Regions from separate parts of the Homo sapiens genome. Here all the other regions are linked to region 1. The links come from fine-mapping of genetic effects on gene expression. A gene starts in region 1. Each other region holds a variant in brackets. All regions are shown on one strand. Distances are from middle to middle.

Region 1 (8,127 bases):
TTTTCTCCAAATCCAGACGCACTTACACACACACTCACACACATACACTCTCACACACATGCACACACTCCCATACACTCTCACACACGCACACACATCACTCACACACTCGCACACACTCATACACACACTACACACACATCCACACTCACACCCACACTCTCACCCCATGTACTCACACCCATGCACTCACACACTGTCACACACTCATACACACACATGTACTCACACATGCATGCACACACACACTTACACATTCACGCACATACTCTCACCCACACACTGTCGTACACGTACACTCACACACTTATACACTCACATCCGCACACGCATTATTCACACATGTGCACACACGCGCGCGCACATGCATGCAGTCACGCACACACATTCATACACGCACACAGGCACACATTCACACACATGCACACACGCACACACATTCACACATGGACTCACACGCGCACACGCGCGCACACACACACATTCACACCATTCACACACGCACACACATGCACACACTCACACATGCACACACACATGCACTCACACACACAGCCCAGGAGCCAGACCACAGCTTCTCTCTCTCCAGAGTGCCCTGGATATGGATATGCCCAAACATAAAACCGATTCCCCAGCACTGGCGGCCTTTGAGAGCCCCCAGGCACCCCTCCCCTCTCCCCCAACCCCAGGGTCAAACCAGAGACTGGCCAGGAGGGATTGCAGGGCAGTCCTCAGTCCCCTGGCCCGTGGAGGAGGGCGGTGCATTGAGCACATTTCTCTCCCTTGCAGTTCTGCCCACATGGTCCACCCCGGTGCAGCCAATGGCCCTGATTGTGCTGGGGGGCGTCGCCGGCCTCCTGCTTTTCATTGGGCTAGGCATCTTCTTCTGTGTCAGGTGCCGGCACCGAAGGGTGAGTAACCCCACACCTGGTCCCCACAAGGCCCTCAAACCCCTGAGTCCTCTACCAGGAGATCCTGTATATGGGAACTGATTTTGGCCCAGCTCCCTCTGCCCACTCGTAAGTTCCCTTGCTGCCCTGTCCCAGATCCCACTCAAGGGAGAGACAGGAAGGAGCAGAGAGTTAATTCCAGGATAGATGGCCTGGGCCATGTAACTGCTTCTCCTGTCGCAGCTTCCCCCACTCCCCCCACCAAGGGGCACCTCCCTTCTGGAGGCCTGGGACCCTCGTGACTCCCTTTCTTGTCCCTGGACAGCGCCAAGCAGAGCGGATGTCTCAGATCAAGAGACTCCTCAGTGAGAAGAAGACCTGCCAGTGTCCTCAGTAAGGATCTGGGAGGAGGGGTTGAGAGAGGGGAAAGGGGGAGGGGGAGGGAGTTAGAGAGGAGGGGGAGGAAGGGGAGCAAAGGGGGGCAGGAAGGGAGGATGGAGAGGAGGAAGGAGTTGAGGAGGAAGAGCTGGGAGGGGTGGAGGTGAGGAGATGGGGGCTAAAGGGGTGTGGTGGAGAGGATAGAGGGGTGGGAAAAGATGGCCAGGAGCTAGAAGGAGGCAGAAGTGGGAGGATGGAGCTGAAGGAGCAGCAGGCCAGGAAAGGCCCTGCTGGAAAGCCACTGGAGCTGTGCTGCGCTGGAAAGGCCATTGGAGGTGCTAGAACGCAAAGGGGTTGCAGTGGGGACAGACCTGCTCCCCTTCTTCTTTGTTCCTGCAGCCGGTTTCAGAAGACATGTAGCCCCATTTGAGGCACGAGGCCAGGCAGATCCCACTTGCAGCCTCCCCAGGTGTCTGCCCCGCGTTTCCTGCCTGCGGACCAGATGAATGTAGCAGATCCCCAGCCTCTGGCCTCCTGTTCGCCTCCTCTACAATTTGCCATTGTTTCTCCTGGGTTAGGCCCCGGCTTCACTGGTTGAGTGTTGCTCTCTAGTTTCCAGAGGCTTAATCACACCGTCCTCCACGCCATTTCCTTTTCCTTCAAGCCTAGCCCTTCTCTCATTATTTCTCTCTGACCCTCTCCCCACTGCTCATTTGGATCCCAGGGGAGTGTTCAGGGCCAGCCCTGGCTGGCATGGAGGGTGAGGCTGGGTGTCTGGAAGCATGGAGCATGGGACTGTTCTTTTACAAGACAGGACCCTGGGACCACAGAGGGCAGGAACTTGCACAAAATCACACAGCCAAGCCAGTCAAGGATGGATGCAGATCCAGAGGTTTCTGGCAGCCAGTACCTCCTGCCCCATGCTGCCCGCTTCTCACCCTATGTGGGTGGGACCACAGACTCACATCCTGACCTTGCACAAACAGCCCCTCTGGACACAGCCCCATGTACACGGCCTCAAGGGATGTCTCACATCCTCTGTCTATTTGAGACTTAGAAAAATCCTACAAGGCTGGCAGTGACAGAACTAAGATGATCATCTCCAGTTTATAGACCAGAACCAGAGCTCAGAGAGGCTAGATGATTGATTACCAAGTGCCGGACTAGCAAGTGCTGGAGTCGGGACTAACCCAGGTCCCTTGTCCCAAGTTCCACTGCTGCCTCTTGAATGCAGGGACAAATGCCACACGGCTCTCACCAGTGGCTAGTGGTGGGTACTCAATGTGTACTTTTGGGTTCACAGAAGCACAGCACCCATGGGAAGGGTCCATCTCAGAGAATTTACGAGCAGGGATGAAGGCCTCCCTGTCTAAAATCCCTCCTTCATCCCCCGCTGGTGGCAGAATCTGTTACCAGAGGACAAAGCCTTTGGCTCTTCTAATCAGAGCGCAAGCTGGGAGCACAGGCACTGCAGGAGAGAATGCCCAGTGACCAGTCACTGACCCTGTGCAGAACCTCCTGGAAGCGAGCTTTGCTGGGAGAGGGGGTAGCTAGCCTGAGAGGGAACCCTCTAAGGGACCTCAAAGGTGATTGTGCCAGGCTCTGCGCCTGCCCCACACCCTCCCTTACCCTCCTCCAGACCATTCAGGACACAGGGAAATCAGGGTTACAAATCTTCTTGATCCACTTCTCTCAGGATCCCCTCTCTTCCTACCCTTCCTCACCACTTCCCTCAGTCCCAACTCCTTTTCCCTATTTCCTTCTCCTCCTGTCTTTAAAGCCTGCCTCTTCCAGGAAGACCCCCCTATTGCTGCTGGGGCTCCCCATTTGCTTACTTTGCATTTGTGCCCACTCTCCACCCCTGCTCCCCTGAGCTGAAATAAAAATACAATAAACTTACTATAAAGATGCTCTTCGTGTGTGTGTGTGTGTGTGTGTGTGTGTGTGTGTGTGTGTGAGAGAGAGAGAGAGAGAGAGACCCCTTCTCTGGGGACCAGGAATCTTCTGGTCTTTGGGGTCGGACCCAGAGGAGAGGTTGCTGGGCGTGCCCCAGGAAGGAGATGAAGTTTCCCTGGAGAGGGAAAAATTCTGTGGAGGCTGGCTACCCACCTCCACAACCCACAGGGCTCTGTGTGGGCCTGTGTGTGTGTGAGGCTGAGACTCTGTAATTACATGTGTGTGATATACCGTGGGGGAGAGACTCAGGGTTGTGTGAGCTCTCCTGGTGTATGTGTGTGGCAGAGAAAAAGGACTATGAGAAACTGTAACATGTGTGTGCAAATTGTATCCCCAACATATGTGTTTGTGTTCCAGGAGGAGGAGGCAGAGTGTGTGTGTCTGTGTGCATGCATGCGCCCACATCCTTTTAGCTTGTGCACAACCACCCCCAACTCCACAAGCAGCCCCAGTGTGCACCACAAGCCCCCTCACTCCCAAACCCAAGGCCCAGCCCTCACACAGATACACACAGTGACACACGCTTCCTCCTCCCCGAACAGCTAGCTCCTCAGTCCCCAACAACACCAGCTGCCTCTTGGAGCTTGTGTTCGTGTTGAAAACGGGAAGGGGTGGGGGCAGGACATGAACCATTTCACCAATGAAGCCGGTTCCCAGCCATCCTCCTCACCGCCCTCCCTCTCAGCGCCTTCCTTGCCCCTCCTCCCCGAGTCACCACCGTCCAGTTCCCCACCCTGCACTCGTTTCCCGCCCCCCCCCGCCCCCCACAAAGCTGTCCTGCCTTCCCTCTGGCCTGGGCTCACTGGCAGGACGACCCCGGGAGAGAGGGTCCTGGAGAGTGAGAGGGGCAGAGACCGAGTGAGCCGTGGGCTGAGCCTGGGAGGCCGGGACTGAGGGGGAGGAGGGAGGCCCGGGGGAAGGGAGGGAGGGAGAGAGGGAAGGAGGGAGGAGGGCGGGCGAGCTGGAGCCGGCAGGCAGCGGGAGCCCGAGAGAGCCGCGTCGGGAGTGCGGTCTCCATGGCAGTGCTGGGCGCAGCCGGAGAGAGGTAAGACGACCCCTGCCTGCCCCGTCCCCTGTGTTGCCTCCCTTTCCCCCTCAAGCTGCCTCCTCTCCCCTAGGCCGGCCCCTCCTCCCCAGCCACCTGCTGTTTCTGCCCTGGAGAACCTGGAGGGGGACAGGAGGGAGGAGCCGCCTGACCTTACCCCTTCACCCCAAAGGGCGAGGGACCCCGTCGGCCAGGGAACCTCCCAGATCCCCCTTCCCACCTTCCTCTGATCTCTCCCTGTCCTTCACCTCCCTCTCTCTGTCCTTCACATCTTTCCTGCCTCCTTCCCTCTCTGACTCCCTATCTCTTTCATCCTGAGCCCACCAGCTGGGCCTGGGTGGAGGTGGGTGGGAAGGGGTCCAGGGCTGTAGGAGAGGACACTGGGGGCTGCTCTTGGCCAAGTCCCTCCACCTCCCTCTGGCTGGCCATTGCCATGGCAACTAGGGTGTACTGGGCTCCGGAGGGAAGCCAAGGGTGGGGGTGGACCAGGACCTCTTGGGGAAAGCAAGGGTCTGAGCTGCTTCCATGGGAAACAGACCCTTTCACTGCTGTGCCCCATTTTTACCCCACTTACCCTAAAGCCATTATGTGCTTCCTTACAGCCCCACTCTGTTCAGGGTTTCACCCGATTCCCTTACCCCCCTTCCCAGGGCTCACTGAAGCTCAGCATCACGCACTAAAACTGGGACCATCCTTCCTCCCATGAGAGGGAAACTGAGGCTCTGGGCCAGGGAGGAAGAGTCAAGGTCTCCCCACGGGGAGTCAGCACCTTATTGAACATTTGGCTTTTCTTCTCAGCCTCCTATTCCCTGCTCCCTCCCTCCCTCCCTCCTCCAGTCCCTCCTCCCTCCAAAGCCTCCTCTCCAGGGGGTTTGAGCTTTTCCTGCTATTTTCAGATACTACCACTTTGCCCCCTCTTTCTCTTCTGCTCAAACTCTCCTCCTTCTCCCTAGTTCCCCCTCTTTCCATTTCTGGATGCTTCTGATGTCAGCGGTTTCCCCGCCTTCAGGTTCCCTAGCACCCCCTTCGGTCCCAGACTCCTTTCTCCCATTTTCCCAGATATGGGTAGCTGGAGGGTGATCACCCAGGTTTGGGGAAGTAGGGGCTAAGCACCAAGACCCCTGCATCCAGGAGACCGGCAGGTAGGGGAGGAAGGCTGTGATGCCATATCCCAGTTCACTGTGAACCCTCAAGAGGAAACCAGTCTTGTGTCTCCCATCAGTAGTTCTGAAGAGACATTTAGGGACTTGAAGATAGGGGTGGAGTAGTGCTGAGCAGGGGATGTTCTAAGAAGGAACCTGGGAGTTCCAGCGGGAGGAGGAAGGGCTAAAGGAGACAGGGAGGTGGGAATACCTTCTTCCCTAGAGGTCTGGAAGAGTGCGGCTCTCATCTGTGTGGGGTGTTTAGCTGTCAGAGTTAAGGCAAAGGAATGTTCTGAATGACCCTCAGGGCCTTAGTAATCAGTCATGCCTATAGTTTCAAGAAAGGGGGCACAGGAGGCTGATTGGAGACCAGCCCAGGCCCTACCTTTGCCCTCTCCCTCCCACATCTCATCTTTCCCTTGCAGCCTGTCCAGGGGGCTGAGCCCCACCCCCAAATCCCTGGGGCATCCAGAAGATTCCTGACTGGTCAAGAACCAGAGGCAAAAGAGACCTGGAAGTCCCAGCATGGGGACCAGAACCCCCCAGCCAGCCTCATAGTTGGGAAAGTAGCCAGCTTGCCTGCCCCATCAATTGCAGGGATGCTTAAGGAAGGCCCCGCCCAGTATGAAAGCTGAGGATTGCCTCTGCTGACCCTCAGTCTCCTCCCCTGCCCTCTACATCTGCCCTCAGCTGGGTCCATCATGCAATGCTGAGCACTGGGGTGAGCCTGGGGGCAGCCTGCCTGCTGACAGGGCGAGGATTGTGGGGATCATGGGAGTGTTTGTGAGTGGGGCTCCTGGGTGAGACCTAGCCCCCACCCCCACAGAGCTCAAGGGGGTGGGGGGCTGAGGATAGGATGGCTCGGGGCGGGGCGGGGGCAGAGGAGGCCTCCCTGCGCTCCAACGCATTGTCCTGGCTGGCCTGTGGGCTCCTGGCGCTGCTGGCCAATGCCTGGATCATCCTCAGCATCTCGGCCAAGCAGCAGAAGCACAAGCCACTGGAGCTGCTGCTCTGCTTCCTAGCGGGCACACACATACTCATGGCAGCTGTGCCCCTCACCACCTTTGCCGTGGTGCAGCTGCGTCGTCAGGCTTCCTCCGACTATGACTGGAACGAGAGTATCTGCAAGGTCTTCGTGTCCACCTACTACACCCTGGCGCTGGCCACCTGCTTCACGGTCGCCTCCCTCTCCTACCATCGCATGTGGATGGTGCGCTGGCCCGTCAACTACCGCCTCAGCAACGCCAAGAAGCAGGCACTGCATGCCGTCATGGGCATCTGGATGGTCAGCTTCATCCTCTCCACACTGCCCTCCATTGGCTGGCACAACAACGGCGAGCGCTACTATGCCCGCGGCTGCCAGTTCATAGTCTCCAAGATCGGCCTCGGCTTTGGCGTTTGCTTCAGCCTCTTGCTACTTGGGGGAATTGTCATGGGTCTGGTCTGTGTGGCCATCACCTTCTACCAGACACTGTGGGCCCGGCCCCGGAGGGCTCGGCAGGCCCGGAGAGTGGGGGGTGGTGGGGGGACCAAAGCGGGTGGGCCAGGGGCCTTGGGTACCCGGCCAGCTTTTGAGGTACCAGCCATTGTGGTGGAGGATGCCCGAGGGAAGCGGCGGTCCTCGCTGGATGGCTCGGAGTCTGCCAAGACATCCCTGCAGGTCACCAACTTGGTCAGCGCCATCGTCTTTCTCTATGACTCACTCACAGGGGTGCCCATCTTGGTGAGATCGGGGTCCTCCCCACCTGTTCTCCCCAATATCCAGGCCCCAGCATCATCACCTGACCTCCAACTTCATCAGCCATACAGCAGCTCCGTCATCTCTCCTCCAGTTCCATCATCCATCTTCCTCTCCTCTGTCCATCCCCCACTCCATTTGTGGCCCCCATCTTGATCATCTGTCTTTTAGTTCCCACTACCCTGTTTACCCCAGCTCCAGCATCTGCTTCAGTTCCCACTCCTCAGCTCCATCACCGTCCTTCAGTTCCACGACCTGTCCTCCAGCTCCGTCATCCATCCTGCAGCTCCACGGTTCAGCCGCAGACCTCTCATCCAGCCGCTGGGCTCCACTCTCCATTCCCTCCTTCCCTCGGGCTGCCACATGGTCTCTGAGCACTCTTGGCTGGAAATCCCACAGGGCTCACCCCACCACCCCATCTAGTCACTGTTCCTGGGTTCCTGTCTGTCTCTACGGTTCCTGGTCCACCTCTGTTCCTCTCCCTCCTGACCGCAGGGCTTTGTCTCCAGCACTCTCCCCGACCTTCCTCTGAGTCAGTCCCTTCCCTCTGTTCACTCCATCTCCACCTCCGGCTTCGCCTCTGTTGGAGCACAGGGATCAGGCATTACTTCTGACGTCTTGCCCACCAGCTGCACTAGGATATGGGGTTCAGGTGGGCTCCTCAGCTCTGGCCCTGACCCAGCCCGCTCCCACCCTTCCCCAGGTGGTGAGCTTCTTCTCCCTCAAGTCGGACTCGGCGCCCCCCTGGATGGTGCTGGCTGTGCTGTGGTGCTCCATGGCACAGACGCTGCTGCTGCCCTCCTTCATCTGGTCCTGCGAGCGCTACCGCGCCGACGTGCGCACAGTGTGGGAGCAATGCGTGGCCATCATGTCTGAGGAGGATGGAGATGACGGTCAGAGGAGGGGCTGGGCTTTGGCTTTCCTGGACATCTGTCTATTCCCTTTTCTGCCGCTCCTTCTCAGCCAGAGGATGGGCTG
Region 2 (8,127 bases), 20 kb before region 1:
TCATAAATAAGTTTAAGGAAAGGTGCTGTGCCTGGATGTGCTAGATTTATGTTTAACTTTACACAAACATCTCAGTGTAGTAAAGAGTAACAGAGCAGTATTGCCGCCATGATGTCTCGCCTCCAGACATAAGGCAGTTTTCTCCTCTCTCAAAATAGAATGTATGATCGGTTTTACACCGGGTCATTCCATTCCCAGGGACGAGCAGGAGACAGATGCCTTCCTCTTATCTCAACCGAATAGAGGCCTTCCTCCTTCACTAATCCTCCTCAGCACAGACCCTTTACGGGTGTCGGGCTGGGGGGCTGTAAGGTCTTTCCCTTCCCATGAGGCCATATCTCAGGCTGTCTCAGTGGGGGGAAACCTGGACAATACCTAGGCTTTCTCGGGCAGGGGTTCCTGCGGCCTTCCACAGTGTATTGTGTCTCTGGTTAATAGAGAACGGAGAATGGTGATGACTTTCACCAAGCACACTGCCTGCAAGAACTTTTCTTTTTTTTTTTTTTTGAGACAGAGTCTTGCTCTGTCGCCCAGGCTGGAGTGCAGTGGCGCGATCTCGGCTCACTGCCACCTCTGCCTCCCGGGTTCACGCCATTCTCCTGCCTCAGCCTCCCGAGTAGCTGGGACTACAGGCGCCCGCCACCACGCCCGGCTAATTTTTTTGTATTTTTTTAGTAGAGATGGGGTTTCACCGTGTTCACCAGGATGGTCTCGATCTCCTGACCTCATGATCCGCCCGCCTTGGCCTCCCAAAATGCTGGGATTACACGTGTGAGGCAAGAACTTTTTAAAAGTGCATCTTGCGCAGCCCTAGATCCATTAAACCTTGATTCAATACAGGACATGTTTTTGTGAGCACAGGGTTGGGACAAAAGTTACAGATTAACAGCATCTCAAAGCAGAACAATTTTTCTTAGTACAGATCAAAATGGAGTTTCTTATGTCTTCCTTTTTCTACATAGACACAGTAACAATCTGATCTCTCTTTCTTTTCCCCATACCTCTCACGCTGTATCAGGCCCCAATTCTTGGGAACGTCACCTTAGAACTGTCCCACACATTTCTACAGCCACTTGGCTCAGGCCCTTTGCTGACCAGGATGGTTGCAGTTCTGCCTTTGGTGCCTCGCCTCCTCCAGTTCTTTCACTCAGCAGCTGCAGGGGTCCACGTGGCAAATCTAATAATCTTCTTCTCTATAGAAAATCCTCTGCTGGCTCTCTAGTGCCCAGGATCCAGTCCCAGCATCTCAGCACGGCCTTCAAGCATTTCCACGTCCTGGCCTGGCTCCATGGTCTCCCCGCCAATTTGCCACCTTCTCCATGCATCCTTTTCTGATCCCCTCCTCACTCATCCCAGCAAAGAACCCCCTCCTGGCCTGAGCATAGCATTTCGTGGTGTGTATCTCAGAGCATCCAGTTAGGGGTGTGCAAGTTTACTTTGTTACTGGCTGATGTTGTGAAGTCCCAAGTTGTTGGTGCCGCAAACAAAAAATTGGACATGACACACACAAATAGCAAAGCAGCAAAAGTTTATTAAGCACAGTACGATCCACTATGGATCAAGGATGACCTGCGAATGGTATCAGCATCACTTTGCTATATTTCATGGCCTTTTCTATGTGTTTTTTTTCTCTTTTTCCTCAAGCTGCCTAAGCTTTAGCCAGCATGTGCCTTTTGGTTGACAGGTGGGTTGCTTAGTTTCTTGGCCTCTGTGTGTTTACGTGTCATTTCCTTCCCATAGTTTTAAGTACATGCATGATATGCACTCTGTAGGCATGAACCTTAAGTAGCTAATTACTATACGGGGTCATTTTGAGGATATCTTTTCTCTGTAGTACATGTGCATCTTTTTTTGCAGTGGTGCAATCTTGGCTCACTGCAACCTCCTCCTCCCTGGTTCAAGTGATTCTCCTGCCTCAGCTTCCTAAGCACCTGAGACTACAGGTGCATGCCACCACGCCCGGCTAATTTTTGTATTTTTAGTAGAGATGGGGTTTCACCATGTTGGCCAGGCTGATCTCGAACTCCTGACCGCAAGTGATCCACCCACCTCGGCCTCCCAAAGCACTGGGATTACAGGCATGAGCCACCGCACCCAGCCTAGTATATGCCCATCTCTTAGGAGCTGCTCCTAACTGGTTTGGTTTGGATCTAGCCAGCCATGGGGCTCCTTATTCACTTATTTATCTTCTGTTTTTGCTCACCTGCCTCTTTCTCTTGCTTCTGCTCCTACTCATTCCTTCCTTAATCCAACCTCCAATTCCCTCTGCTATTCTCCTGCCTCAAGTTCACTAGGCTGGCTGCAAGGGTCCTGAGGGAGAGGTTGTGTATCGCCCCTGTATACTCCAGGTCCAGTAAATGTTTGCTGACTAATGATTGGCATTTCCCTCAGGCCCTGCCATTTCTGTGGGCTCAGGTCCCTACTGGCTCAGGCCCCTGCCTCCCTCGGCAAGGCCACAATGAACCGGGGAGTCCCTTTTAGGCACTTGCTTCTGGTGCTGCAACTGGGTAAGTTCTCAGACCTGGGGTCTCAATGCAGATGACGTGGGAGGAAAGGCAAAGGTGGAGGATGGGGTAGAGGGGGACAGCGGCGACATTGAGACCTGACTCCTTTCTTTTCCACTTAGCGCTCCTCCCAGCAGCCACTCAGGGAAAGAAAGTGGTGCTGGGCAAAAAAGGGGATACAGTGGAACTGACCTGTACAGCTTCCCAGAAGAAGAGCATACAATTCCACTGGAAAAACTCCAACCAGATAAAGATTCTGGGAAATCAGGGCTCCTTCTTAACTAAAGGTAGGGTTGCCTGGCTCCCCATCCAGGGAGGAAAACACACTATGGAGTGAAAGCCTTTGGTGTCTGAGATCTGGTCTTAGTTAAACTCTGGGATCCCAGAGGGCTTGGGTTGACAGAAACTCAGTGGCATTCTTATCCAGAGTTTCTCTACACCAACTGCTGGTGGCCCAGGGAAAGGTGGTATGTGAATTTCAATATTTTAATATTTAATATTCATGAACTTATTTTAGTGAGTTTTAGAACAATCACTATCACTTAAAACCCGTGATTTCTTGAGTATTGTTGCTACAGACCTATGTAGATAATACTTTGCACAGTGACTCATATGTATAATCCTAGCACTGTGGGAGGCTGAGGCCGGAGGATTGCTTGAGTCCAGGAGTTCAAGACCAGCCTGAACAACATAGTGAGACTCTGTCTCTATGAAAAAAAATATATATATATTTTTTTTGGAGACAAGGTCTAGTTCTATCACCCAGGCTCCAGTGCAGTGGTGTGATCTCGGCTCACTGCAATCTCCACCTCCCAGGCTCAAGTCATCATCCCACCTCAGCCTCCCAAGTAGCTGGGACTACAGGCATGCACCACCATGCCAGGCTAATTTTTGTATTTTTTATAGAGACAGGGTTTCACCATGTTGGCCAGGCTGGTCTCGAACTCATGAGCTCAAGTGATCCACTCACCTTGGCCTCTCAGAGTGCTGGAATTACAGGTGTGTGTCACTATGCCTAGCCAAAAAAAATTTTTTTAATTAAAAAAAAAAAGGCCGGCTGTAGTGGCTCACACCTGTAATCCAGAACTTTGGGAGTTTGAGGTGGGCAGATCACCGGNGGTCAGGAGTTCAAGACCAGTCTGGCCAACATGGTGAAACCCGGTCTCTACTAAAAATACAAAAATTAGCCAGGTGTGGGGGTGCAGTCCTGTACTTCCAGCTACTCAGGAGGCTGAGGCAGGAGACTCGCTTGAACCTGGGAGGCAAAGGCTGCAGTGAGCTGAGATTGCACCACTGCACTCCAGCCTGGGTGACAGAGCAAGACTTCATCT[C/CA]AAAAAAAAAAAAAAAGCTGCANATTTATTATTATTATTATTAGTTTATTTATTTATTTTTTTGAGACAGAGTCTCGTTCTGTCGCCCAGGCTGGAGTGCGGTGGCGTGATCTTGGCTCATTGCAACCTCCACCTCCCGGGTTCAAGTGATTCTCCTGCCTCAGCCTCCCGAGTAGCTGGGACTACAGGCGTATGCCACCATGCCTGGCTAATTTTTTGTACTTTTAGTAGAGACAGAGTTTCACGGTGTTAGCCAGGCTGGTCTTGATCTCCTGACCTCGTGATTTACCCTCCTTGGCCTCCCAAAGTGCTGGGATTACAGGCGTGAGTCACTGTGCCCGGCCCAGAATCATTTTTTTCTACTTTTTTTTTTTTGAGGCAAACTCTCGATCTGTTGCCCAGGCTGGAGTGCAGTGGGCATGATCTTGGCTCACTGCAAGCTCTGCCTCCCAGGTTCAAGCAATTCTCCTGCCTCAGCCTCCTGAGTAGCTGGGACTACAGGCGTGTGCCACCATGCCCGGCTAATTTGCGTATTTTTAGTAGAGACCGGTTTTCATCATATTGGCCAGGCTGGTCTTGAACTCCTGACCTCAAGTGATTCTCCCACCTTAGCCTCCCAAAGTGCTGGGATTACAGGCATGAGCTACTGCACTTGGCCTTTTCTCCTGGTTTTAAAACTATTATATGCTCATTACAAAATATTTGGTCAATGAAGAAAAGAATATGGAAGAAAATCAAATGCATGCATACTTCTATCACTCAGAGATATCCTCTGCTAACATTTTGATTGATTTTCTTCCAATCTTTTTTTTTTTTTTTCTTTTTGAGACAGGGTCTCACTCTGCTGCCCAGGCTGGAGTACAGTGGCATGACCACAACACATCACAGCCTCAAGTGATCTTCCCACTTCAGCCTTCCCAGTAGCTGGGACTACAGGTGCACGCCACCATGTTCACCTAATTTTTTACTTTTTGTAGAGATGAGACTTCACCATGTTGCTCAGGCTGGTCTTGAATTCCTAGGCTCAAGTGATCTTCCCGCTTTGGCCTCCCAAAGTGCTGGGATTATAGGTATGAGCCACTGCATGTGGCCTATTTTCTTCCACTGTTGTTCGGCGTGGAGAATATTATATACATAATTACGTAAATGATATCATACTGTATATACCTTTTTTCCTACTCCTTCCTTAAGTTATATCATAATGAGACTACCAATTATTAGACTTTTTTTCTTTTTTTTGAGACGGAGTCTCGGTCTGTCACCTAGGCTGGAGTGCAATGGCGCGATCTCAGCTCGCTGCAACCTCTGCCTCCCAGGTTCAAGCAATTCTGCCTCAGCCTCCCGAGTAGCTGGGACTACAGACACGTGCCACCATGCCCAGCTAACTTTTTTATTTTTTTATTAGAGACAGGGTTCCACCATGCTAGCAGGATGGTCTCAATCTCTCGACTTCGTGATCAGCCCGGCTTGGCCTCCCAAAGTGCTGGGAGTACAGGTGTGAGCCACCGCACTCGGCCTAGACTAACTATTTAAAGTAATCTGGCAATGTTTAACGAATACAAAACTCTAAAACCCTTGGACCTAATAATAGCTATTTTGGAAAGTCTACTTGACAGAAATAAAATTGTGAATATTCTTTTTTGTTGTTTTTTTGAGACAGAGTCTCATTTGGACGCCTAGGCTGGAGTGCAGTGGCATGATCTCGGCTAACTGCAACCTCCACCTCCTGGGTTCAAGTGATTCTCCTGCCTCAGCCTCCTGAGCAGCTGGGATTACAGGTGTGCACCACCATGTCTGGCTAATTTTTGCATTTTTAGTAGATGGGGTTTCACCATGTTGACCAGGGTGGTCTGGAACTTCTACCCTCAAGTGATCTACCCACCTTGGCCTCCCAAAGTGCTGGGATTACAGGTGTGAGCCACCACGCCTGACCAGTGAACACTTAATAATATCTATGGAAAGGTGTTATTATAAGAATTGCTTGTGGGGCCGGGCGTGGTGGCTCACGCCTGTAATCCCAGCACTTTGGGAGGCTGTGGCAGGCGGATCACGAGGTCAGGAGATCAAGATCATCCTGGCTAACACGGTGAAACCCCGTCTCTACTAAAAATACCAAAAAATTAGCCAGGCGTGGTGGCGGGCACTTGTAATCCCAGCTATCCAGGAGGCTGAGGCAGGAGAATTGCGTGAACCCAGGAGGCGGAGGTCGCAGTGAGCTGAGACCGTGCCATTGCACTCCAGCCTGAGTGACAGAGTGAGACTCCATCACAAAAAATAAATAAATAAATAAATAAAATATAAATAAGTAAATAAAGGTCAGGAGTGGTGGCTCACGCCTGTAATCCCAGCACTTTGGGAGGCCGAGGTGGACAGATCATGAGGTCATGAGATCAAGACCATCCTGGCTAACACAGTGAAACCCTGCCTCTACTAAAAATACAAAAAGTCATCCAGGTGTGGTGGCACACACCTATAGTCCCAGCTACTTGGGAGGCTGAGGCAGGAGAATCACTTGAACCCAGGAGGCAGAGGTTGCAGTGAGCTGAGATCGCGCCACTACACTCCAGCCTAGGCGACAGAGCAAGACTCTGTCTCAAAATAAATAAATAAATAAATAAATAAATAAATAAATAAATAAAATAAAAAGCACACACACACACACACACACACACACACAATGCAAAAGACCCACCCTACTACAACTAACATTATATTTAATGGTGAAAAACTGAATTCTTTCTCCCTAAGTGCAGGAATAAGACAAAGATGTCTGCTCTTACTACTCTTATTCAACATAATACTGCAATCCCTTGCCAGTGCAATAAGGCAAGAAAAATGAAATAAAAGGAAAACTGATCAGAAAGAAAGAAATAAAACTGTTCCTATTTGTGGATGACATGATTACATAGAAAATCTCAAAGAATCTGTAAGAAACTTCTTAGAATTAATAAATGAATTCATCAAGGTTGCAGAATATAAGATAAACATAAAAAATCTATTGTATTTCTATATATTAGCAAGGAACATGTGTACACAGAAATTAAAACTACAATACCATTTATAATTGCTCAAAAAGGCCAGGCATGGTGGCTCACACCTGTAATTCCTGCACTTTGGGAGGCCAAGGTGGGAAGATTGCTTAAGCCCAGGAGTTCAAGACCAGCCCGGGCAACATAGTGAGACCTTGTCTCTACAAAAAGTAAAAAATTAGCTGAGCATGGCCGGGTGCAGTGGCTCACTCCTGTAACCCCAACACTTTGGGAGGCTGAGGCGGGCGGATCATGAGGTCAGGAGATCGAGACCATCCTGGCTAACACGGTGAAACCCTGTCTCTACTAAAAACACAAAAAATTAGCTGGATGTGGTGGCAGGCGCCTGTAGACCCAGCTACTCGGGAAGCTGAGGCAGGAGAATGGCGTGAACCTGGGAGGCGGAGCTTGCAGTGAGCTGAGATTGTGCCACTGCACTCCAGCCTGGGTGACACAGTGAGACTACGTCTCAAAAAAAAAAAAAAAAAAATTAGCTGAGCATTATGGTGTATGCCTGTAGTCCCAGCTACTGGGGAGGCTGAGGTGGGAGGATTGCTTGAGCCCTAGGAGGGCAAGGCTGCAGTGAGCCATGATCACACCACTGCTTTCCAGCCTCGGTAGGAGAGCAAGACCCTATCTCAAAAAAAAAAAAAAAAAAAAAAGAAAAGAAAAGAAAAGAAAAGAAAAAGAAAGAGAGAAAGAAATACTTAGGTGTAAATCTAAAAAACATGCGTAGGGCCAGGTGCAGTGGCTCATGCCTGTAATCCCAGCACTTTGGGAAGTTGAGGCTGGCGGATCACTTGAAGTCGGGAGTTTGAGACCAGCCTGGCCAACATGGTGAAACCCCGTCTCTACTAAAAATGCAAAAATTAGGCAGGTGTTGTGGCGCATGCCTGATCCCAGCTACTTTGGAGGCTGAGGCAGGAGAATTGCTTCAACCCGGGAGGCAGAGGTTGCAGTGAGCCAAGACTGTTCCACTGCACTCCAGCCTGGGCAACAGAGTAAGAGTCTGTCTCCCGAAAAAAAAAAAAAGAAAAAAGAAAGCATTGAATTGTATGCTAAAAACTACACGATGCTGATTAAAGAAGTCAAAGAAGATCTAAATATATGGAGAGACATGCTGTACTCATGGATTGATGGATTGGAAGACTCAACATAAGAAAGATATCAATTTTCCCCAAATTAATATACAAGTTTAATCCAATTCCTATAAAAATACCAGCAAGATTTTTTGTAGATATAAACAAGTTGGCCAGGTGTAGT
Region 3 (7,169 bases), 81 kb before region 1:
AAAAAAAAAATCCATATCTGGACACATCAGAATAAAATTGCCGAAGGTTAAAGACAAAGAAAAAAGTCCCACAAGCATTCAGAAAAACAGTGCTTTTCACACAGGATAAAAATGACTCAAATGACTGCACATTTTTCGTCAGAAACTATGAAAGTCAGGTGGAACTAGAATGATACTTTTAAGGGGCTTAAGGGAATTAACTCAAAATCCTATATCCAGTGAAAATATTGCTCAGGAATGAATGTGAAATAAAGATATTCTCAGGTGAAGGAAAATAAGAATTTGTCACCGGAAAACCCGCTGTAAAATCCTAAAGGAAGTTCTTTAGGCAGAAGAGAAATGACACCAAAGGAAACACGGAACATTAAGGATGAAGAGCAGCAGCAATGGTAAATATAATAGATTATTTTTCTCCTCTTAAGTTCTTTAAAATGTTTATGACAGCTGAAAGAAAATCATAAATTTGATGTTTGTCTCAAGAGGGAATTCTCTAAATATAATTTTAAAACAATTATAAATTCACCTAGAGCCATGCACCGCGGCTCACGCCTGTAATCCCAGCACTTTGGGAGGCTAAGGCGGGCGGAACACTTGAGGTCAGGAGTTGGAGACCAGCCTGGCCAACATGGTGAAACCCTGTCTCTACTAAAAACACAAAAATTAGCCGGGCGTGGTGGTGCATGCCTGTAATCCCAGCTACTTGGGAGGCTGAGGCAGGAGAACTGTTTGAACCTGGAGGTAGAGGTTGCAGTGAGCTGAGATCGCGCCATTGCACTCCAGCCTGGGCAAGAAGAGTGAAACTCCGTCTCAAGAAATAAATAAATTCACCTAGAAGGCTAGGTGTGGTGACTCACACCTATAATCTCAGCACTTTGGGAGGCTGAGATGGGCAGATCTCTTCAGCCTAGGAGTTCTAGACTAGCCTAGGCAACATGGTGAAACTTCGCCGCTATAAAAAATACAAAAAAAATTAGTGGGGCATGGTGGCCTGTGCCTGTAGTCCCAGCTACTTGGGAGGCTAAGGCAGGAGAATTGCTTGAGCCTGGGAGGTAGAGGTTGCAGTGAGCCAAGATTGTGCCATTGCATTCTAGTCTGGGCAACAGGAGTGAAACCCTGTCTCAAAAATTAAAAATCAATAGATAAATTCACCTAGAACTAAGCATTTTTAGCGTTTAGTATGTGGAGTTTCAGTATTTGTAGTATGTGGTGTTTGTCATTTATAGTAACACATATGAGAACTACGAGATGAGACAGTAAAGGGAGCTATGTTGTGGTAAAATTTCTACATTTAACTTGAAGTGGTAGAAAAAAACTCTGATTGTGAAAAGTATGTATTTTGTAATCCCCATAGTAAGGGTTAGTAAACCATATTCCACAGGCCAAATCCAGCCCACTGCCTGTTTTTGTAAATACAGTTTTGTTGGACTGTAGTTACACCTCATTCATTGCATATCATGTATGGTTGCTTTTGCACTACAGCATCAGATTTGGGTGTTGCAACACACATTGTATGGCTGACAAAGCTCATCATATTTATTGTATCTGGCCCTTTACAGAAAAAGTTTGCCGGCCCAGTGTAGTGACTCTTGCCTATAATCCCAGCACTTTGGGAGGCCGAGGCGGGTGGATCACGAGGTCAGGAGTTCAAGAACAGATTGGCCAAAATGGTGAAAGTCCGCCTCCACCAAAACTACAAAAATTAGCCAGGCGAGGTGGCAGGCGCCTGTAATCCCAGCTTTTCAGGAGGCCAAGGCAGGAGAATTGCCTGAACCCAGGTGGCAGAGGTTGCAGTGAGGCGAGATGTCACCAATGCCTGTCCTAGAGCGACCACTAAAGAAAAGAAAGCCAGGCGCGGTGGCTCATGCCTGTAATCCAAACACTTTGGGAAGCCAAGGTGGGCAGATCACGAGGTCAAGAGATCGAGATCATCCTGGCCAACAGGGTGAAACCCTGTCTCTACTAAAAATACAAAAATTAGGCCTGGCGCGGTGGCTCACGGCTGTAATCCCAGCACTTTGGGAGGCGGAGGCGGGCAGATCACGAGGTCAGGAGATCGAGACCATCCTGGCTAACACGGTGAAACCCCGTCTCTACTAAAAATACAAAAAAAAAAAAAAAAAAAAAAATTAGCCGGGCGTGGTGGCGGGCGCCTGTAGTCCCAGCTACTTGGGAGGCTGAGGCAGGAGAATGGCGTGAACGCGGCAGGCGGAGCTTGCAGTGAGCCAAGATCGCGCCACTGCACTCCAGCCTGGGCGACAGGAGCGAGACTCTGTCTCAAAAAAAAAAAAAAAAAAAAAATTCGCTGGGCATGGTGGTGGGCGCCTGTAGTCCCAGCTAATCGGCAGGCTGAGGCAGGAGAATCACTTGAGCCCGGGAGGCGGAGGTTGCAGTGAGCCTAAGTTTGCAGAGAGCCGAGATCGCGCCTCTGCACTCCAGCCTGGGCGACAGAGCAAGACTCCGTTTCAAAAACAAAAAACAAAACAAAAAGCCGGGCGCGGTGGTTCAAGCCTGTAATCCCAGCACTTTGGGAGGTCGAGGCGGGCGGATCACGAGGTCAGGAGATCAAGACCATCCTGGCTAACACGGTGAAAACGCGTCTCTACTAAAAATACAAAAAAATAGCCGGGCGTGGTGGCGGGCTCCTGTAGTTCCAGCTACTCGGGAGGCTGAGGCAGGAGAATGGCGTGAACTCAGGAGGCGAAGCTTCCAGAGAGCCGAGATCACACCACTGCACTCCAGCCTGGGCGACAGAGCGAGACTCCGACTCAAAAAATGAAGAAAAAGAAAAGAAAATGATACAGAGATTTACTGGGTGAAAAAAATCTGTACATAAATTAAAATGGAATACTAAATAACATTCAAGTAAACCAATACAAGGCTGGAAAATGGAGACAGAGAAATTACAAACAGAACAAACAAAATAAATAATAAATAATAGAAATATTGCCGGGCGCGGTGGCTCACACCTGTAATCTCAGCACTTTGGGAAGCCGAGGCAGGTGGATCACGAGATCGAGACCGTCCTGGCTAACATGGTGAAACCCCATCTCTACTAAAAATACAAAAAAATTAGCCGGGCGTGGTGGCGGGCACCTGTAGTCCCAGTCACTTGGGAGGCTGAGGCAGGAGAATGGCATGAACCCGGGAGGCGGAGCTTGCAGTGGGCCGAGACCGTGCCACTGCACTGAAGCCTGGGCAACAGAGTGAGACTCTGTCTCAAAAAAAAAAAAAGAAAGAAAGAAACAAAGAAAAAAAAAGAGATAAATGCAAACATACTAATTATATTAATTTTTTATTTTTATTTATTTATTTTTTTGAGATGGAGTCTCACTCTTGTCGCCCAGGCTGGAGCGCAGTGGCGCGATCTCAGCTTGCTACAACCTCTGCCTCCCAGGTTCAAGCTATTCTCCTGCCTCAGCCTCCCGAGTAGCTGGGATTACAGGCATATGCACCAAGCCCAGCTGATTTTTGTATTTTTAGTAGAGACAGGGTTTCACCATGTTGGCCAGGACAGTCTCGAACTCCTGACCTCAGGCAATCCTCCCGCCTTGGCCTCCCAAAGTGCTGGGATTACAGGTGTGAGTCACCACACCTGGGCAATTATATTAAATTTAAATGGCCTAACTACAATTAAAAGACGGATAGGCTGGTGGTATACATCTGTAGTTCCAGCTACTTGGGAGGCTGAGTTGGGAGGATTGCTTGAGCCTGAGAAGTTAAGGCTGCAGTGAGCTGTAACTGTGCCACTGCACTGCAGCCTGGGTAACAGAGTGAGACCCTGTCTCAAAAAAAAAAAAAAAAGAAAAAAAAAAAAGACTCACTTCTTAACTCCAGCACTTTGGGAGGCTGAGGCGTGAGGATCACTTGAGCCCATGATTTTGACACTAGCCTGTGCAACACAGTGAATAGAGACCCCATCTCTATTTTAAAAAAATATCAAAATAATTTTTTTCTTTTTTTTGAGACAGAGTCTCACTCTGTTGCCAGGCTGGAGTGCAGTAGTGCGATCTCGGCTCACTGCAACCTCCGCCTCCCCGGTTCGCGCCATTCTCCTGCCTCAGCCTCCCGAGTAGCTGGGACTACAGGCGCCCATCACCACGCCTTCCTAATTTTTTTTGTATTTTTAGTGGAGATGGGGTTTCACTGTGTTAACCAGGATGGTCTCGATCTCCTGACCTCGTGATCTGCCTACCCCGGCCTCACAAAATGCTGGGATTACAGGCGTAACCACCGCGCCCGGCCAAAATAATTTTTTTAAAAGACCCAGAAATACAGTGTCTTAAAAAAGAAAACAAATACTTTTAAGTATGACATAGGTCGGTTAAAAGTAAAAAGATGGAGAAACACGTACCATGAACACTAACCAAAAGAAAGTTGAAAATGGCTGTAGTAACAGTTAACTAAACTTCAGAGCAAAGAAAATTACCAGAGATAAAGAGGGACATTGGCTGGGCTTGGTGGCTTAAGCTTGTAATCCCAGCACTTTAGGAGGCCGAGGTGGGCAGATCACGAAGTCAGGAGTTCCAGACCAGCCTGGCCAACATGGTGTAACCCCCATCAATACTAAAAATACAAAAAAATTAGCCAGGCGTGTAATCCCAGCTACTTAGAAGGCTGAGGCAGGAGGATCACTTGAACCTGGGAGGCAGAGGTTGCAGTGAGCCGAGATCATGCCACTGCACTCCAGCCTGGGTGACAGAGCGAGACTCTGTCTCAAAAAAAACAAAACAAAACAAAAAAGACATTACATAATAAGATATTTGGTTTTCCAAGTAGATACAATAATTCTAAATGTCTATGCATTTAACTAAAGCGCTTTAAAATGCACAAAGCAGGCCGGCCACTGTGGCTCACGCCTGTAATCCCAGCACTTTGGGAGGCCCAGGTGGGCAGATCACTTGAAGTCAGGAGTTTGAGACCAGCCTGGCCAACATGGTGAAACCCCATCTCTACCGAAAATATAAAAAATTAGCCAGGCGTGGTGGCATGCGACTGTAATTGCAGTTAC[T/G]CAGGAGGCTGAGGCAGGAGAATTACTTGAACCTGGGAGGTGGTCTAGCAGTAGCGAAAAGTGTCAAGGAACAACACCCGCTACTTAGCAGACCGGGAAAGTGAGTCTCCTTTTCCCCGGGGGAGTTTAGAGAAGACTCTGCTCCTCCACCTCTTGTGGAGGGCCTGACATTAGTCAGGCTGGCCCGCGGTTATCCGGAGGCCTAACCCTCTCCCTGTGATGCTGTGCTTCAGTGGTCACGCTCCTAGTCCGCCTTCATGTTCCATCCTGTACACCTGGCTCTGCCTTCTAGATAGCGGTAGTAAATTAGTGAAAGTACTAAAAGTCTCTGATATGCAGAAATAATGGCGTAAGCTGTCTTTCTCTCTGTCTCCTCTCTCTCTCTCTCTGCCTCAGCTGCCAGGCAGGGAAGGGCCCCCTGTCCAGTGGACACGTGACCCACGTGACCTTACCTATCATTGGAGATGACTCACATTCTTTACCCTGCCCCTTCTGCCTTGTATCCAATAAATAACAGCGCAGCCAGACATTCGGGGCCACTACCGGTCTCTGCGCATTGGTGGTAGTGGTCGCCCGGGCCCAGCTGCCTTTTCTTTTATCTCCTTGTCTTGTGTCTTTATTTCTATGCTCTCTCATCACCGCACACAGGGAGAGACCCACCGACCCTGTGGGGCTGGTCCCTACACACACCCAGCTAATTTTTTGTATTTTTAGTAGAGACAGGGTTTCACCATATTGGCCAGGCTGGTCTTGAACTGCTGACCTCAGGTGATCCACCTGCCTTAGCCTCCCAAAGTGCTGGGATTACAGGTGTGAGCCACCGCGCCCGGCTTTGTTTTTGTTTTTGTAGAGATGGGGTTTCACCATGTTGCTCAGGCTAGTCTCGAACTCCTGGGCTCAGGCAATCCTCCCTCCTCAGCTTCCCAAAGTGTTTAGGATTCCAGGTGCGAGTTGCCACGCCCTGCAGGAAATTTTCTATTTAAAGGACTTCTATGGTGAATCATTCCATACAGCATATTAGTATCATTTCTGTCAATCTAGGTTTTGAGTCCTGGCTCTCTCTGTGCTACTATCAGATAGCTGTATGATGTTGAACAAATCACTTCTCCGTTTCTTCAGAAGAAAATGGAAAGGGGGGTTTTGATGATATCTGGAATGACTGATAAGGGGCATCTGAATCATCTCCAACCCTGACATTCGGCTTTAGTATGTCTGAAAGCAGACCTACTGCCACATTTGGGAATTTCCAGAGCAGATGATCTCTAAGGTCTCTTTTTAAGTCTGAAATTGTCATTTATGACATATTTGGGCTTGCTGAAATTAAGATTCATCTGTATTGGGAATCGGCTTCTGTTCTTCCCTGCCATATTCCTTGTGAATTGTGAATTCCCCCACCTCAAATACATAACATCTTTATCTGAAGTCACCAGTGGTGCTCTAGGAACACAGCTTTGTTTACTTTCACCAAAGCATTTCCCATCTGATATGGTTTGGCCGTGTCTCCACCCAAATCTCACCTTGAATTGTAGCTCCCGTAATTCCCACGTATTGTGGGAGGGACCCGGTGGGAGGTAATTGAATCATAGGGGTGGTTTCCCCCATACTATTCTCGTGGTAGTGAATAAATCTCACAAGATCTGATGGCTCTATAAGGGGAAACCCCTTTTGCTTTGTTTTCATTCTGTCTCTTGCCTGCTGCCATGTAAGACGTGCCTTTTGCCTTCCAACATGATTGTGAGGCCTCCCCAGCCATGTGTAACTGTGAGTCCATTAAACCTCTTTTTCTTTATAATTTACTCAGTCTCGGGTATGTCTTTATCAACAGTGTGAAAATGGACTAATACACCACCTCAGTGTCATCTTGGCTTTTCCCAAGGTATCTCTGCTCTGTTTCTTTTTTTTTGAAACAGAGTCTCGCTCTATCCCCCAGGCTGGAGTGCAGTGGCACGATCTCGGCTCACTGCAAACTCCGCCTCCCGGGTTCACACCATTCTCCTGCCTCAGTCTCCTGAGTAACTGGGACTACAGGCGCCTGCCACAACACTTGGCTAATTTGTGTGTGTGTGTGTATTTTTAGTAGGGACAGAGTTTCACCGTGTTAGCCAGGATGGTCTCGATCTCCTGACCTCGTGATCCGCCCGCCTCGGCCTCCCAAACTGCT
Region 4 (8,127 bases), 29 kb before region 1:
ATATATATATATATATATAGAATGCCTTTAATGAAGCAGTAAATACTAATTTTATTAAATCTCAACCCTTGAGTACGGTGTGTCATGAAATGAGAAGTAGCACACAGTACTATATGCTACAGATGAAGTACAATGCTGTCAAATAGGGGTACTTGTGTTAATTGTTGGAGTCGCAAGCTGAACTAGAGTTTTCTTTTCTTTTCTTTTCTTTTCTTCTTTTCAAGACAGGTTCTCACTCTGTCACTCAGGCTAGAGTGCAGTGGTGCAATCACGGTTCACTGCAGCCTCAACTTCCTGGGCTCAAGCGATCCCCCCACCTCGGCCTCCTAAAATGCTGGGATTATAGGCATGAGCCACCACTCCCAGCCCCACTTTTTTCAGACTGGAAAACGCACACTCACATGTGCATCTTTAAATGATCACTTGGGCTGTGGTATGGAGAATGGCGACCAGTGAGGAGGCAGGAGCTGTTGTCCGAGCAAGGGATGATATTGGCATCTTGGATTGGCATGGTGGCAGTAGTGGTAGTGCAGAGTGACTTGGGTAGATTTTGGAGCCATTTAGAAGGTAACATCCACAGGAACTGGTAAATAAATACGTGGGAGAAGTTGGGTGAAGGGGGTGTCAAAGATTACACCCAATTTATTTTGCTTGGGCAAGTTGGTGGATGGTGAGCCCCTCACTGAGTGAGAAGCCTGGAGAAGCAGGTTTGGAGGGTGGTAGTATGCAGGTGGTATGCATAGTTGGGGATGTGTGTTGAGTTTGCTATGTCCGGTGAGCTTCCCAGTGGAGATGTCCAATGGGCAGACGGATACTCACATAGAGAGTTCATGGTAGATTCGGGCTAGAGGAAAGCACCTGAGGCCTGGCCAGAGACGCCTAGAGGAACAGAGCCTGGTTAACAGTCACTCCTGGTGTCTCAGATATTCTCTGCTCAGCCCACGCCCTCTCTTCCACACTGGGCCACCTATAAAGCCTCCACAGATACCCCTGGGGCACCCACTGGACACATGCCCTCAGGGCCCCAGAGCAAGGAGCTGTTTGTGGGCTTACCACTGCTGTTCCCATATGCCCCCAACTGCCTCCCACTTCTTTCCCCACAGCCTGGTCAGACATGGCGCTACCACTAATGGAATCTTTCTTGCCATCTTTTTCTTGCCGCTTAACAGTGGCAGTGACAGTTTGACTCCTGATTTAAGCCTGATTCTGCTTAACTTTTTCCCTTGACTTTGGCATTTTCACTTTGACATGTTCCCTGAGAGCCTGGGGGGTGGGGAACCCAGCTCCAGCTGGTGACGTTTGGGGCCGGCCCAGGCCTAGGGTGTGGAGGAGCCTTGCCATCGGGCTTCCTGTCTCTCTTCATTTAAGCACGACTCTGCAGAAGGAACAAAGCACCCTCCCCACTGGGCTCCTGGTTGCAGAGCTCCAAGTCCTCACACAGATACGCCTGTTTGAGAAGCAGCGGGCAAGAAAGACGCAAGCCCAGAGGTAAGGTGGTCAGACTCGGCTTCCTTCCCCGGAGCTGAGAGGGAGGGGAACGTGGGGCAGATGCACAGGAATGTGCTCTGCCCAGTTGTCTGCCCACAGCTCTGGCCACCTTCTCTTGCATTTCTCTTGGAACTGGTCATGAGCAGCGATTTCCCACTGGAACTGTGAGCTTCCAGAGGTCAGAGACTGTGCTAGACTCCTCTCTGCAGCCCCAGCGTGCACAGCTCAGTGTCCAGAGCAATGGGTGCTCCTTAGAGGAGTAGTGACCTAAATAGCAAGATCAGAGAGGGAGTGAAGACTGGAGACTATCCCAGGCTGGGAAAGGCGTGGAAGGCAACTAGTCGTGGGCAGTTGAGGGGAGAAGACTGGAAGAGGGGAAAAGAGGAGAAAAAGAGTGAAGAAGGGGAGGGAAAAAATTAGAAAGAATAAATAAATATAAGGTGGGAGGAAACCTATAAAAAAGAAATGATGAGGAAAAACATAAAAACAAGAAAAAGAGCAAAAGAAGTGGAATCTAGTCTAGAGAAAATTCTTGCAAAACCAATTTTCCTTAACGGGACAATCTCCAAAAATTGACACCAAATATCATACTTGCAGCATTTCATAAGTCGCATGATCTATGTAATAGTCTCTTTTAACTACCTTTTGTGTTTCTGTGTGTATTTTTAAATTTTTGTCTGCTTCTTTGCTCTTTTAAGATTTTTGAACAATGTCTAAAGGCACTTCTACTCTAGTTAGCTTTAAAATGATTCATGAAATAGGAAAGCTAAAATTCTCAGAAAGTGTTGAAACTGAGCTTTTGCGTATGAATTGCCCTAAAAGTTGCAGATACATATCTTTAGATAAATATGTCATTTAAGAAACGGATTCGAAAAGAATTGGTGGTAGGGGTCTCATGAGGCCGGGAGAGTTACAGAAGGATGTGCAGCCCCTCCTGGGCCTGGCAGGGTGTGAGGGAGAGTGAGGACTCACTGTCCCTCCTGAAGGGAAGCCCTGTGCCATCTCAGCCTTTCCGCCCTCAGACCTTTCCAGCCCCTGAGACCTCATGGCCTTGAAGCCGTGCTATCCCCAGTGTCCTCTGCTTTCCCCTCATAGGCTTCTTCTGGGAGAGAGGTTTCCTGGGGTACGTTCTGATCCCTCAAAACGGAAAGGCCCTGTTCTCAATAATTCAAAGATTTCACTCTGAGTGGGATAGTGCTTCCTGAATGCCCTGCTCTTGTGGTGGACATTTTTATCGGGGCAAGGCTAAGAGCAGGGCCTGATGGGGGAAGTCACTGCTACTTCACATTTTGACCAATAATTCCTTGTGCTGTATCAGATGCTGTAGGCTGATACAAAATGGCCGCCGCCCTCAAAGTCAGATGAAAGAGCCCCTGAGGACAGCGTTAGAGACACTCGGGAGATGATTTCCCTCTTTCAATGTGGGAGCACTTACATAGGAGAGGTCTATATCTAGATAAAAACTCCTCCCACCACTGGTGCTAGACAGAGCTTGGGGGCAGCCCTAGGCTCTGACCCTGGCCGTAATGGCGGGGTGGTGCTGAGGGCAATTGGCTAGACCAATTGTCTTGCACGTTTTATTTTTTATTATTATTTTTGAGACGGAGTCTCGCTCTCTTGCCCAGGCTGGAGTGCAATGACGTGATCTCCACTCACTGCAGCCTCCACCTCCTGGGTTCAAGCGATTCTCCTGCCTCAGCCTCTTGAGTAGCTGGGATTACAGGAGCCCAACACCACGCCCGGCTACTTTTTGTATTTTTAGTAGAGACCAGGTTTCACTATGTTGGACAGGCTGGCCTCAAACTCCTGGCCTCAAATGATCCGCCCGCCTTGGCCTCCCAAAGTGCTGGCATTACAGACGTGAGCCACCATACTGGGCCAGTCTTGCACATTTTAGACACTCAATAAATGTTTGTTGAATGAAATACCTGTGATGGGCCGGGCGTGGTGGCCCACACCAGTAATCCCAGCCCTTTGAGAGGCCGAGGCAGGAGGATGGCTTGAACCTGGGAGTTTGAGACCAGCCTGGGCAACATGGTGAAACCCCCATCTCTACAAACCCCACAAAAGTTAGCTGGGCATGGTAGTGTGTGCCTGTGGTTCCAGCTACTTGGGAAGCTGAGGTGGGAGGATTGCTTGAGCCTGGGAGACGGAGGCTGCAGTGAGGCCTGACTGTGCCACTGCACTCCAGCCTGGGCGAGAGTGAGGCCCTGTCTCAAAATAACTTTGATGAAGGTGGGGAATCAGAAGTAGGTGGGCAGGGGTCTGGGTTTGCAAGGCTCTGAGTTTGAGCTCTGTTCTGTACCTTTGAGGGGATGAGGGAAGGAGGGTGGGCACGGTTCCCCCGATGTGGGTGTCTGAGGCGAAGAAGAGGATGGCGGAGGTTGCAGCCACCAACCACAAGAGTTCCTTAGAGGGGTCACAGTCTCTAGGAAGTTTATAGGAAGCTAGTCAGCAGTAGAGAGGGTGAACGCGGTGGGGCACATCCCGCGGCTGGGCTTGAGTGGGCTGCTTGGGGGTTATGGGGAGAAGATAAAAGTGCCTGTGGGACCACAGACTCTCGCTGTGGTGGAGCTGGGCCCTCTTACCCTCCCAAGCCTCGCCCCTCATCCCATCCCTGGGGGCCAGGGGTGAGGGCGGCAGGAACCTCAAGGCTCTGAGAAAGTGCGTGGTGTGTGTTGCCATTTTGGTCTCTTCTCTTTCTCAGTCTCTCTTTGCCTCACTTTGGATCTATGCTCTGTGCATCTGTCTTGCTTCTCAGAATTTCTTCTTTTCCTCTTTTTTTGTACTACCCTGCGCTTTGTGTGTGATTGTGGATTGTGTGTGCATAGCTGTTGCTTTAACAAGCTGCTCCAGGTCTCTCTCTCCCACATCTTTCCCTCCCCTCCTCCCTTGAGGCTCTGTGCATTCTGGGGAACTCTGTCCATTTCCCTTTGTCCATGTGTCCCTCCCACCCTGCAGCCGGCTCCCTCACATCCACCCTGGGCTGCAGGCGTGCTCGGCAGGCTCCCCACAGATCAAAGCTTGTCCAGGGTCTGCATTGCTGCCAAAGGCCAGGAGGACTGTGTACAGACCGGAAGGAGCTAGAGCTTAGTGGCAGCCTGAGAGGGGAAGCTGAAAAAGGAGAAGAGGCAAGGGGCATTCCAGGGGAGCCCGGGAGAGCCAGCACGGCC[G/T]CCTGGTATATGAGGCAAAGAGGAAGACAGACACAGACACAGGGAGCTGCAGGCTGGGGGCATAAGCTGGGGGCTGGGAAGCATAGATACAGAAATGCACAGATGTGAGCTGAGAAGCAAGGAGGGAGAGAGAGAGACAGAAAGAGAGAGAGAGACGTGCCAGGGCTTGAGGGACCAGAGAGCCCTCCCAGCCTCTCTCGGAGTGCTGGTATACAGGATGCTACCGTACTAGGGTAAGACACCTCTGGGGACGCTGAGTATGGGAATCAAAGGCCAGATCTCTGGGGTGGCAGCGGAAGCCCAAAGCACCAAAGCAAGCATGCTGGAAACCCACAGCCTCCTCCACTTAGCAGAGCCTTGGGGTGAGATGAGGCAGAACAGGGAGCTGGAGGCAGGGAGGTGGCTGTCTGCACATACCTCAGGACCATGGAGCTGGGGGAGTCAAAACAGCCACCATATGGGGAAGGGTCAAGAATGCCTCTAGTCTTCCCCAGGCATCTTATCAGGGTAAGCTGAATTTGGACCCCAGAGAAGGGATATCGTTTATGGAGACTTCCCCTCTTTCATCCCCTGCTCACCAAGGACCCAGTCAGTCTGGGATGGGGGACAGTGGGAACCACTCTTTGGTATGAGGCTACTCCTATTCTACTCTTCTCACTGCAGCCTTCCCCTAGATGCCTCCCATCTGCATGCTAACCTGTAAACACTTCACCATCACTGGTGGCTAGTCTCCCTTCCTCCTTTTTCAGAAACCTCCTTCCTGACCTCTTTTCTTCCTACTTCCCCGGTTTAAACAAAATTGTATCTATCTATCATCTATCTATCTATCTATCTATCTATCTATCTATCTATCTATCTATCTATCTATCTTTTTTTTTTTTGAGACAAAATCTCACTCTGTCGCCCAGGCTGTAGTGCAGTGGCACTACAAGTAATCCCAAGTAGCTGAGATTACAGGCGCCCGCCACCATCCCCAGCTAATTTTTTTGTATTTTTAGTAGACACGGGGGTTTCATGATGTTGGCCAGGCTGGTCTCAAACTCCTGGCCTCAAGTGATCTGCCTGCCTCGGCCTCCCAAGGTGCTGGATTATAGGTATGAGCCACCACACACGACACCCGGCTTCTATCTATCTATATCTATCTATCTATCTATCTATCTATCTATCTATCACCTATCTATCTAATCTATCTATATCTGTCTATCTATCTTTATGTATCTATCTTATCTATTGATCTATCTATCTTTTTTTTTTTTTGAGACAGAGTCACTCTGTCACCCAGGCTGGAGTGCAGTGGCACGATCTCGGCTCACTGCAACCTCCGCCTCCCGGGTTCAAGCGATTCTCCTACCTCAGCCTCCTCAGTAGCTGGGACTACCCACCACCACTCCTGGCTAATTTTTGTATTTTCAGTAGAGATAGGGTTTCACTATGTTGGCCAGGCTGGTCTCCAACTCCTGACCTAAAGTGATCCACCCACCTTGGTTTCCCAAAGTGCTGGGATTACAGGCGTGAGCCACCGTGCCTGGACATATATCTATCTTTTTTTTTTTTGAGATGGAGTCTCGCTCTGTTGCCCAGGCTGGAGTGCAGTGGCGTGATTTCGGCTCACTGCAACCTCCGCCTCCCGGGTTCAAGTGATTCTCCTGCCTCAGCCTCCCAAGTAGCTGAGATTACAGACGTGCGTCACCATGCCCAGCTAATTTTTGTATTTTTAGTAGAGATGGGATTTCACTATGTTGGCCAGGCTGGTCTCGTACTCCCGACCTCAGGTGATCCACTTGCCTTGGCCTCCCAAAGTGCTGGAATTACAGGTGTGAGCCACTGCATCCGGCCTTATATATCTATCTTGTCTGTCTGACTGTCTAATCTAATTCATCTATTTTATCTGTTTATCTTATCTATCATCTATTTATCTAATCTATCTGTCTGTATGTCTGTTTTTTTTTTGTTTTTTTTTTTTTTTTGAGATAGAGTCTTGCTCTGTCGCCGAGGCTGGAGTGCGGTGGCGCGATCTCAGCTCACTGCTGAACCTCCGCCTCCTGGGTTCTAAGCGATTCTCCTGCCTCAATCTTTGGAGTAGCTGGGATTACAGGCCCGTACCACTGTGCCCGGCTAATTTTGTATTTTTAGTAGAGAAGGGTTTCACCATGTTGGTCAGGCTTGTATTGAACTCCTGACCTCAGGTGATCTACCCGCCTAAGCCTCCCAAAGTGCTGGGAGTACAGGTGTGAGCCACTGTGTCTGTCCCTAAATGTCTGTCTCTATCTATCTATCTATCTATCTATCTATCTATCTATCTAATCTATCTTTCTGTCTAACCTAATCTATTTTATCTATCTTATTCATCATCTATCTAATCTGTCTGTATGTTTATCTAATCTATTTACCTAATCTATCAATCTATCATCTAATCTATCTAATCTGTCTATCTAATCTATTTTATCTATCTATCTATCTGTCCATCCATCTATCTACCTACCTGTCTATCTCAAGCACCTACCACGTATTAAGCCCTGGCTACCTCCTCTTCCAGGCAGATGGAGTAACTGGAGGCAGCTAACAAAGATGGAGTCACTTTTCTTATCTTCTCCTAAACCACCGTAAGAGGACCAAGCCCCCACACCTTCTGAGTGCCCCATTCCTCTCCACAGATTGTGTCTTAGTGCCCAGCAGGAAACACAGTCCACCTCCCATGGTTCAAGAGATTGTAGAAAGGGGGTTATTCACATAGGTTAAGGGAATCAATCAATTTGAAGCACAGACACTATTAACAGCAGGAAGAGTCCTGAAGAAGTGAAAATGGTGTTTCTGGAACCCAGAGAGTGCTTGCACTCTGGATAAGGGGCCACCCCACAGAAGCTGTGGAGGGGCAGGGCTGCAGGTGAGGATGAACACACAGCTATTGACAGAAAATATGCCCAGGGCAGGGATAGAGTAGGAAAAATATCCCAGCTTCTTTCCCCCACCCTTCCATCTCATCTCTGAAAGGCACTTCCCACTGGCCAGCCCCGACTGGTGCTGGAGGGCAAGAGAGCCTATGAGCCATGTGTGGCTGTCAGCCCCTTGGTGGAGAGCCACAGACAGGATGGAGAGTGGCTGGCAGGGCCCCGTGGGGATGAACAGCTTGGATTGGGGCGACTGGGCTTCATCCAGGCTGGGCTGGATGTGTGCATACATTTCAGTGACCCGTTTTAGAAACAGAATTAATATGGTGAATAGAGAAAGAAGAAATCAGTGACTTTCGCTCCTCCATACAATTCAATTTGGCTTAAGTTAGCCAAAGCCATACCAAGTCCTCTCTCTATGTCTCAGCTGCTGCCAGGCTTGTGGTGGCCACACAGCTGGCTAGACTGTCATCTCTGTCCTCAAGGGGCTCAAGCTAGAGGAGGAGAGTTGAGAAACCAAATCACTATACACAAAGTAGAAGGTGGAACACACCCAGGAGCATGTCAACGGGGTGCTG

What was found.
Region 2: its variant is fine-mapped to the expression of GPR162 in whole blood (INTERVAL, PIP above 0.99).
Region 3: its variant is fine-mapped to the expression of GPR162 in whole blood (INTERVAL, PIP above 0.99).
Region 4: its variant is fine-mapped to the expression of GPR162 in whole blood (TOPMed, PIP above 0.99).

What each region holds. Positions count from the first base shown.
Region 1 is chr12:6,817,632-6,825,758 of GRCh38, forward strand. It overlaps GPR162 (G protein-coupled receptor 162), which reads left to right and starts at 4,190. Exons shown (of 5, transcript NM_019858.2): 1 at 4,190-4,269; 2 at 5,837-7,134; 3 at 7,853-8,042. The coding sequence starts at 6,268. CD4 (CD4 molecule) reads left to right here. Exons shown (of 10, transcript NM_000616.5): 8 at 790-911; 9 at 1,216-1,283; 10 at 1,668-3,168. The coding sequence ends at 1,698. RefSeq lists enhancers at 1,229-1,729, 1,730-2,230, 3,201-4,173.
Region 2 is chr12:6,797,681-6,805,807 of GRCh38, forward strand. It overlaps CD4 (CD4 molecule), which reads left to right. Exons shown (of 10, transcript NM_000616.5): 2 at 2,392-2,507; 3 at 2,627-2,791. The coding sequence starts at 2,459. Among named protein-coding and RNA genes, the nearest start is that of CD4, 12 kb to the left of the region's middle. The variant C/CA (reference allele first, on the strand shown) is at 3,836.
Region 3 is chr12:6,736,838-6,744,006 of GRCh38, forward strand. No RefSeq gene overlaps it. Among named protein-coding and RNA genes, the nearest start is that of MLF2, 13 kb to the right of the region's middle. The variant T/G (reference allele first, on the strand shown) is at 5,009.
Region 4 is chr12:6,788,175-6,796,301 of GRCh38, forward strand. It overlaps CD4 (CD4 molecule), which reads left to right and starts at 1,354. Exons shown (of 10, transcript NM_000616.5): 1 at 1,354-1,488. RefSeq lists enhancers at 838-1,395, 1,211-1,260, 4,376-4,425. The variant G/T (reference allele first, on the strand shown) is at 4,662.